Regions from separate parts of the Homo sapiens genome. Here all the other regions are linked to region 2. The links come from fine-mapping of genetic effects on gene expression. A gene starts in region 2. Each other region holds a variant in brackets. All regions are shown on one strand. Distances are between the middles of the regions.

Evidence for each region. PIP is the estimated chance that this variant, and not a neighbour inherited with it, causes the effect.
Region 1: its variant is the best candidate, but not a certain one, in a credible set for the expression of RGS10 in whole blood (INTERVAL, PIP 0.83).
Region 3: its variant is the best candidate, but not a certain one, in a credible set for the expression of RGS10 in whole blood (TOPMed, PIP 0.84).

The regions. Positions count from the first base shown.
Region 1 is chr10:119,567,128-119,569,884 of GRCh38, forward strand. No RefSeq gene overlaps it. Among named protein-coding and RNA genes, the nearest start is that of RGS10, 26 kb to the left of the region's middle. The variant T/C (reference allele first, on the strand shown) is at 1,370.
Region 2 is chr10:119,541,455-119,544,211 of GRCh38, forward strand. It overlaps RGS10 (regulator of G protein signaling 10), which reads right to left and starts at 1,265. Exons shown (of 5, transcript NM_001005339.2): 1 at 1,136-1,265. The coding sequence starts at 1,184. RefSeq lists silencers at 718-887, 938-1,677, 1,688-1,757, 1,808-1,967 and enhancers at 2,178-2,257, 2,520-2,757.
Region 3 is chr10:119,499,028-119,501,784 of GRCh38, forward strand. It overlaps RGS10 (regulator of G protein signaling 10), which reads right to left. Exons shown (of 5, transcript NM_001005339.2): 5 at 790-1,232. The coding sequence ends at 1,086. Among named protein-coding and RNA genes, the nearest start is that of RGS10, 42 kb to the right of the region's middle. The variant C/T (reference allele first, on the strand shown) is at 1,071.

The DNA of each region.
Region 1 (2,757 bases), 26 kb after region 2:
ATTTTTGAGAGGGAGTCTCGCTTTGTTACCCAGGCTGGAGTGCAGTGGTGTGATCTCAGCTCATTGAAACCTCCAACTCCAAGGTTCAGGCAATTCTCCTGCCTCAGCCTCTAGAGTAGCTGGGACTGCAGGTATGTGCCACCATGTCCAGCTAATTTTTGTATTTTTAGTAGAGACAGGGTTTCGCCATTTTGGCCAGGCTGGTCTTGAACTCCTGGACTCAAGTGATCTGCTTGCCTTGGCCTCCCAAAGTGCTGGGATTACAGGCATGAGCCACCACACTCAGCCAATTTTTTTTTTTTTTTTTTTTTTTTTTTTTTGAGACGGAGTCTCGCCCTGTTGCCCAGGCTGGAGTGCAGTGACACAATCTCAGCTCACTGCAAACTCCACCTCCCAGATTCAAGCAATTCTTCCATCTGTCTCCCGAGTAGCTGGGATTACAGGCATACACCATCATGCCTGGCTAGTTTTTTGTATTTTCAGTAGAGACGGGGTTTCACCATGTTGGCCAGGCTGGTCTCGAACTCCTGACCTCAGGTGATCCACCCACCTCGGCCTCCCAAAGTGCTGGAATTACAGGTGTGAGCCACCACGCTCGGCCCCGATTTATTTATTTATTTTTTGAGACAGAGTCTCGCTCTGTTGCTCAGGCTGAAGTACAGTGGCACAATCTCAGCTCACTGCAACCTCTGCCTCTCAGGTTCAAGCAATTGTCGTGCCTCAGCCTCCCGAGTAGCTGGGACTACAGGCATGCACCACTATGCTCAGCTAATTTTTGTATCTTCAGTAGAGATGCGGTTGTGCCATGTTGGCCAGGCAGGTATCGAACTCCTGGCTTCAAGTGATCCACCTGCCTCGGCCTCCGTAAGTGCTGGGATTTCAGGCGTGAGCCACCGGCGCCCCGCCAGGCCAATTAATTTTATTTCAGACTACCTTCACCCACAACTGCAGAGTCTCAGAATCTACCTTTTCACAAGCACCCCACCAATTCTGATCAAGTTCTACTCAAATAGAACACGAGGTAATGTTCTGGTTTCAAGAGGGAGACTAAATAAAATACATGTTTACTTTCATTTCCTCTTATCATATTAATGTATTTAACATTTACTGAACACCTACCACATGCCAAGAACTGTTACAAGTACTAGAATTTGTGTAGTTAACAAACCAAGTCCCTGCCTTCGGGGAGCTTCAACCAAGGAATGAAGTTATCCATTTTTAAAAAATAAAATATATCCCTGGGTATAAGAAATGTGGATTTTAAAGGACATCCTAATCCCTGTCATTTTACTGAAAATGCTCAAAGGCAACTATTGTAAAACAGGACCATTTGCCCAACATTCTAATACACAAGTAGAACCCATATTGC[T/C]AAATAAAAACATACCTTAAAGGAAATTGAAAACAAACTATCAGGGCCATCTATCAGCAAACATGTTGGTAATATTTCATTTTCAATAGGCTGGTAAGTCTCCTGGTAAGTCTTCTAGTCTTGATAAAGTGTACACAGTCTTAAACCAGGAACATATTACATATCAACACCCCACCCGATTATCCATTCATGGCTTACTACACCTGCCCAGAATTGTCTAGTCTCAGGTTAATGTGCTCCTGAATCAAGGACTTATCCCTCCTTCATCATCCTTCGTCACTTTTTCCCCAATCTGAACCCTTATTAAACAAAGTATGAGTTATGCCATCTGCTAAAATATAACCTAGCCAGAGAAAATTAAAAATGTTTTTCAAGTTTAGTCCTCTTCAAAAAGTAGCAAGCTAAGATGATTAAATGTGTAGTCTCATTTTTTAAAAAGCTGTTAAGACTTACACATTAGCTTTATTTTTGTGAGCAAAAGCAATCGTACAAACCCAATATGGAACAACTCAATTCTTAACTTGTAACCAGTAAAGTGAACTGAATGTGAAAACCTGAAATTTATACAATAATTCTCAGAACATGCACAGTTGCATATGGCTACGTATTTCATGCTTTATTTTGTCTAGATGGTTTCAGACTTCTCTTTGCTGGTATACCAAAACGTAAGGAAGAAAGATAAAGGACCAGGAAAAAAAATTACACTTGGGCAAGTTATGGTATCTGCTGATTTTATACAGCAAAATCTGGTTTACCTTAACAATGCTGTAATTCTATAGCACCATGACAACCAGGCTTTTTGCAAAACTCTTGTCAGTTCCCAAGAAGGAAGGAAAGTGAAAAGAGGAGACCCACGGGCAAGCTAAGCCTCGCTGGAAGATCAACAACTGGACAGCTCACTCCTGAGATTCCTTTCCAGCATACAGTCGCCCTGGCTTTCCTCAAACGCTATCCAAAAGCACTTCAGTTTGATTCATGTTTGCAAACTTTCCAAGCTGACTCCAAGACGTTATTAGATGTGGATCACTCCCAGAGGAACATCTCAGAGAAACAATGGTTAGTGAATTCTTTAAAGTGCAATAAATTGGAACAGACAAAATTCGGCATATGTATTTTGAGTTGGAAAGTTAAGGAAATAATTTATTGAACATACTTCTTTTGTCCGCTGTTACTCTGATATTCTTGTTTAAAAACCAAGCCATCAAAGTTATGTAGATCATGTCTCTCTCTTCCCCCAAACAAAAGCTTAATTCTTTTTTTTTTTTTTTTTTTGAGACAGAGTCTCGCTCTGTTGCCCAGGCTGGAATGCAGTGGCATGATCTCAGCTCACTGCAAGCTCCGCCTCCCGGTTCAAGGGATTCTCCTGCTTCAGCCTCCCGAGTAGCTGG
Region 2 (2,757 bases):
AGGCGAGTAGCTACTGTTATTCCCACTGTGCAGAACCTCATTCTGCAGAAAGGTCCCACGGCTGGTGAATATGGCGAAGGTGAGATTCGGATCCAGCCAGTCTGGTCCCAGTCTCTAAACCACAATGTCCCTCATAAAATACCAGGAGCAGAAAGGAAATGCACCAACGCGTTGGGACTCTGAGCGCCAAGCAGAAGTGAATCTTGGCGTGGGAAGCCCGGCAAAGCCCCCGAACTTCAGAGTCAGGGGAACCTGGGTTTGAAAGCCTCCCCATCACCTGCGGAGTGTGACTGGGGCAAGTTACCTAACAGCGCCTGGCTTCCGCTCCCTCCTCACTCACCGGGTTGTCCTAGGGGTGAAGGGAGAGTTCACCCAACGCGGTGGACAAAGCCCTTGGCGCACCCAAAGGCCTGCACAGGTCGTAGCTATTGTGATGAGCAAAAGGGTGGAAGGACCGGAATCAAGGGCACGGCTCCACCTTCACCGTGGGGTCTTTGGCCTATCAAGTTGCCCGAGATCGTGGCTCAGGCTGGCCCAAAGTGACGGCCAAGGCGAATCCTTCGTAACGTCAGAACTTCGCTGGCTCGGACCGCAGAAGTGCCCTTCTCCATCCTGGGGTTCCGCCACCCTCGCGATCCCACCTTTTGGCTCCTCGCGGCAGAAGCGAAGGCCCCCGACGCCCCAGGCCCAGGGGCCCAGTCGGATGCCCGGGTCCAGCCGTGCTCCCCCGGGCGCTCGGCATCCTTCCACCCACGCCCGCAGCGGAGGCGGAGAGCGTCACGGAGGGAGAAGCCCGCGCGCCGTTCCGCTTTCGGAATCTGGAGCCCCATGTCACCTCCAAAGTTTGGAGATTTGGGGCGCTCCTTTTTCTCCCAGACCATCACTAAAAAGAAAACTGCGGCTGTTCCTCTTTCAGCCAAACTTCCTCCCCGGGGCTCCCGGAGGAGCTCTGCGCTCCCGTCGCGGCTGGGACCGCGAAGGTGCGGTACCCAGCGGGGAGAGGTGGTGCGGTCGGCCGGGGCTCCAGTCTGGGAGGTACCACCGAGCCGCGCCCGAGCACAAGAGGGAGGGCAGGAGGCCGGGCGGGCGAAACGGCGCCCCGACCCCGAGCCCGCGGGCCCCCGAAGCCGCTTACCTGACGGCGGCCGCTTCCTGCTCAGCCGGCTCACGGCGCGGTTGAACATCGCCGCGGGCGCCCGAGGAGGAAGAAGGAGCAGCCCGGCGGCGCGGCGGCTGAGCCGGAGGAAGGCGAGGAGGAGGAGGAGGGCGAGGAGGAGGAGGAGGAGGGCAAGGAGGAGGAGCGGGCTCAGCACCGCCCCGGAGCTCTAGGTCCCCGCCCGCCGCCCTCCTCCTAGCCAGGCGCCGCGTGGCGCGCTCAGTGCGCCCTGCCCGCCCCCGCTGGTGAGGACTCGCGGTTCCGCTCCGGGGTGCCCGGGCGGGGCAGGGCAGGGCAGCCCCGGGTGACCCCCGATCGCCCAGAGTGTGCCCCGCGCCTGGGATAAGGTGCACTGGCCCAGAGGGAGCCCGCGCCGCCGGGAACTTAGTAGCCCCGCGGAGGCGGTTAGCGCGTCCCGGGGTCCCTGGCCCTCGCCTGAGATGCCGCCCCGGCCCGCCCCGCCCAGCTTCAAGCTCCCGGGCCCATCGCGGTCTCCCGCCTTCTCCCTGTAGCCCCGGAGAAACTGGCACGGCGCCGCGGGCGCACCGCGCTTCGGGGCTCTCAGCGAGCCTTCGCAGGTGGCGGGCGGGGTCCCCTCCCGGGTCACAGGCTGGGAAGCCTAGGCCTCGCGGTTCTGCAGAGTCCGGGCGCGGCCCAGCCTGTGGCCTTTGCCTCCTCGTCACCAGGATCCCCGCCTGCTGGGGCCTGGCTGCTCCTCGACTTCGTGGGCGCTGCGCCTTCCCGCCCCGCGAATGCGGGTGGGGCGTCCCCAGGGCCCGTGCGCTGAGCTAGCCGAGCCGCCGCGGGTGGGCGCCCTCTCCCCGGCCGTGCCGCGCGGGCGCCAGGACTCGGGGAGATCTGAGAGGATTCTGCAGGAACCCCCCGGTTCCTGCGCCGGGCGGTGCTCTGTCCCGCACACCGCGCTCTCGGGACACTTCTCTAACTTTGGGGACACGTGGGCACTGCCTCTGGCAGGGCCTTCAGGCTCCACGACCGGGACCACTCAAGCCCCCACGGCGTCACCTGCTGGGCGCTGCGCGCTCTACGGTCTCCTATTATTTCATTTCTTCTATGGAGCAGCCCCAGAGGGGATGTCATTAGCCCCCATTTTCTTGAACATTTGGTTTGCAAGAAATTGTCTTTCTGGCGAGTTTTATTTTTCTCCTTGTGTATCTGGCTTTGTCTCTAAATTGGTCTTTATTTTTAGCTGTACTAATTGCTATTTTTCCAAACCGTTCCCCAGTCGCCCTCCCCCCATCCCCCCGTCCTTTTGCAGTTTTTTTCACTACTTGGCACTTTCTTTTGTATCTTCTATTCTGAGCTTCCAGTTCTGCTCACTTTCCCTCTCCCTCTACCCACCCCACAGCCCCAGTTGCACCCCAAGTGTGGCCGGTGGTTGCTTGTTGTTTCCCTCCCCGCTATTCCCCCTCCAAAAGTCGTTTTCCTCCGAGCATTTCCAAGCACTCTCCCCCTTCTGCTGCCAAAAGAGGATTTCCAGGCTCCTGAAGCGAACGCGGTGACCAAGAACAGGGTTAGACCCAGCGCGGGGAGTTCTGCTTTTAAAACTGCTGTTGTTGGCCTACTCCGGGCCCAGACAAACT
Region 3 (2,757 bases), 42 kb before region 2:
AAAAGGCCTGGTGGCAGCACCCAACCCCCTACAAATAGCAGGAACAATTCACCAAAGGGAACTGAGCCTGACCTTGGCCCTGGTGGGCTCTGCTCTAAAAGTGGAGTTCCTGGGCTGGCGGGGACAGCCTGGCCCAAGCGTGCCCCGCCTGGCCCAAGCGTGCCCCATTCACAGCCTCCTCACCCAAGAAGGGCAGGCTTCAAGGCAGCATTTCTTTTCCCCGTTGAAGTCTCAAGCCAGAGTTAGCAAGTTCAGCAAAGGGCAGGAGCAGAGAGGAAAGGATTATGATGTGTCCCCGATGGGTACAGGAGAAGGGAACAGCCCCACCAACTCCAACCTCAGTACGCACCTGTGCTACAATCCCATTCAACAACACCTTGAGTTGCCATGGGGACCCTGAACAATTTCCCACTTGTGTTTTTTTTCCTTCCTGGTTGAGATCTTGTTTCTGTCAAGATGAACTATTTATCTGTGTTGCATGAAATGTCATGGGTTGTGGTCAAAACCAGGACCAACCCACGCACAAGAAATAATAACCCTTTGATGACACTCACACACAAGCTTCCCAAGTCTTTAGAGGCTGTCAGTGATTCATTTTCTTTTTCCAGCACTGAACTTGCTCTCGAGAAATATTTAACCCAAAAGGCGACTGGCAGGCCATACCCCCAGTAGCCTGGGTTTGCCGGATCAACTCATGTTTGAGTTAATTTACCAAGTGACCTGTGGACATGCGTCCACTCACCAGAGAGGCAGAGCAAACACTTACAAGGTAAAAGGTAGTGTGATACGTTTCACCTTGTGGCCTTACATGAGGTTTAATTAAGCTACAAAATGCTCGACGTGTCCAGTGTTGAAGGAATCTCTGTTTTGTAAACTAAAACTTCCAAGTTATTATTATTCTTTTTTTATGTTAGCTTAGCCATCATGCAAAATTTACTGGTGAAGCAGTTAATAAAACACACATCCCATTGAAGGGTTTTGTACATTTCAGTCCTTACAAATAACAAAGCAATGATAAACCCGGCACGGTCCTGAGAGGAAATTCCTTTGCTTCTTAAAGCTGCCAGTCC[C/T]GGCTTTTTGGGGGCTCATGTGTTATAAATTCTGGAAGCTCTTTTAGCTGCAGTTTGAGCATCAGGCAAATCTTCTTCCTCTTCCTCGGTTCGCTTGTGTTTTAAAAACAAGTCAGACTTTAAGAAGCGGCTGTAGCTGTCGTACTTCATGAGATTAAAGATCTAAGGAGGAAAAGAAAAAAGAGTCTGAAGGCTGAGGCTAATCCAGGCCATAAATCATCCCATCAGATATGTATTAATACCTACCATGTGCCAAAGAATACTAACATGTGCAAAGAACACACTAAGAAAGCTCAAATAAGTCATCTGCTAGACAAGGCAGATTTCCTGGAGATTTTTGGTCATTATGCAATAATCTCAATGGAATATATAGACAGTCACATGAACAAATATGCCTTTATTTTCCACGGAAATATAGATTCACACAGCACTGATTCAGACCCTTGTACCAAGAAGTCCTTCAAGACTCTCCACTTTATTTGCCTAGATAAGACAAGGATGTATTTCTCCAAGAGCTTGAGACAGCCGAATAGAAACCATTTCTGTAGAGACAGTGGTGTTAAAAAGATCACTGACATATCATATGATGCCAGCATTGTTAAGACTCCCAGTAAGTCTGGCATCCGAGATCTCAAACAAACCTATTATTGTACCAGGAGTCAAAATGAGGCGTGCTCACTGCAGGGCAGGGCAGCAAAACTATAATCTTAGCAAGGGAACAGGTCCCAAATAAAGAATAGAGCAGCCAGCTGCAGAATGCCAACATCTGTGCCATCAGACAGGCTGGGGAGCACATCCCTAGAATGAAACAACTCTAAGGTATGTCAGGTGAGCGAAGAGGACACCCGACAGAGCTGAAGTGCCCCAGATTAGACGGCTGCCCCCGCCGGCATGGCAGGTGCTCAGAGGGCTGTCCCCAGGCACAGTAGCTTCCTCTGGCCGCCACTGAACCTCTTTTCTGGGCCACAGTCCTTGTGACCAGCATTCATTCTCCCCCACTGCTACCCAATCCTGTGCCATCTGCCCTCCTCCCTTGCCCCAGGAAAGGGGCAGAGAAAGAGAAGCACAAAGCCTTTTCCAGCTGTCAAGGGCTATGATCTCTTTCCCACCCCTCATTTCTCTCTCTCTCAGACCTTTCCACTTAACTCGCAGTACACTCTGCAACTAAAAATCCACATGGTTCACCCTGGTACACGGAACAACCAAGTGGAAAGTTCCAGAGATGTCTAGAATGTCACTGACTGCCAGGCGGGGTTGTCAAGTGGATGGTAAAACCCTGACATCTTTTAAGGCTGCCCTCTCCCAACACACATACACTATTTTGTAAATTAAACATCTGAGGGTGCTGGGGGCGGTGGCTCACACCTGTAATCCCAGCACTTTGGGAGGTGGAGGCAGGTGGATCACTTGAGGTCAGGAGTTCAAGACCAGCCTGGCCAATATGGTGAAACCCCGTCTCTACTAAAAATACAAAAATTAGCCGAGCGTGGTGGCACACACCTGTAGTCCCAGCTATTCAGGAGGCTGAGGCCAAAGAATCACTTGAACCCAGGAGGCAAAGGCTGCAGTGAGCTGAGATCACACCACTGCACTCCAGCCTGGGCAACAGAGTGAGACTCTGTCTCAAAAAAAAAGAAATAAAATAAAAATTAAAAATAAAACAAACATCTGAGGGACTCAAAGGACT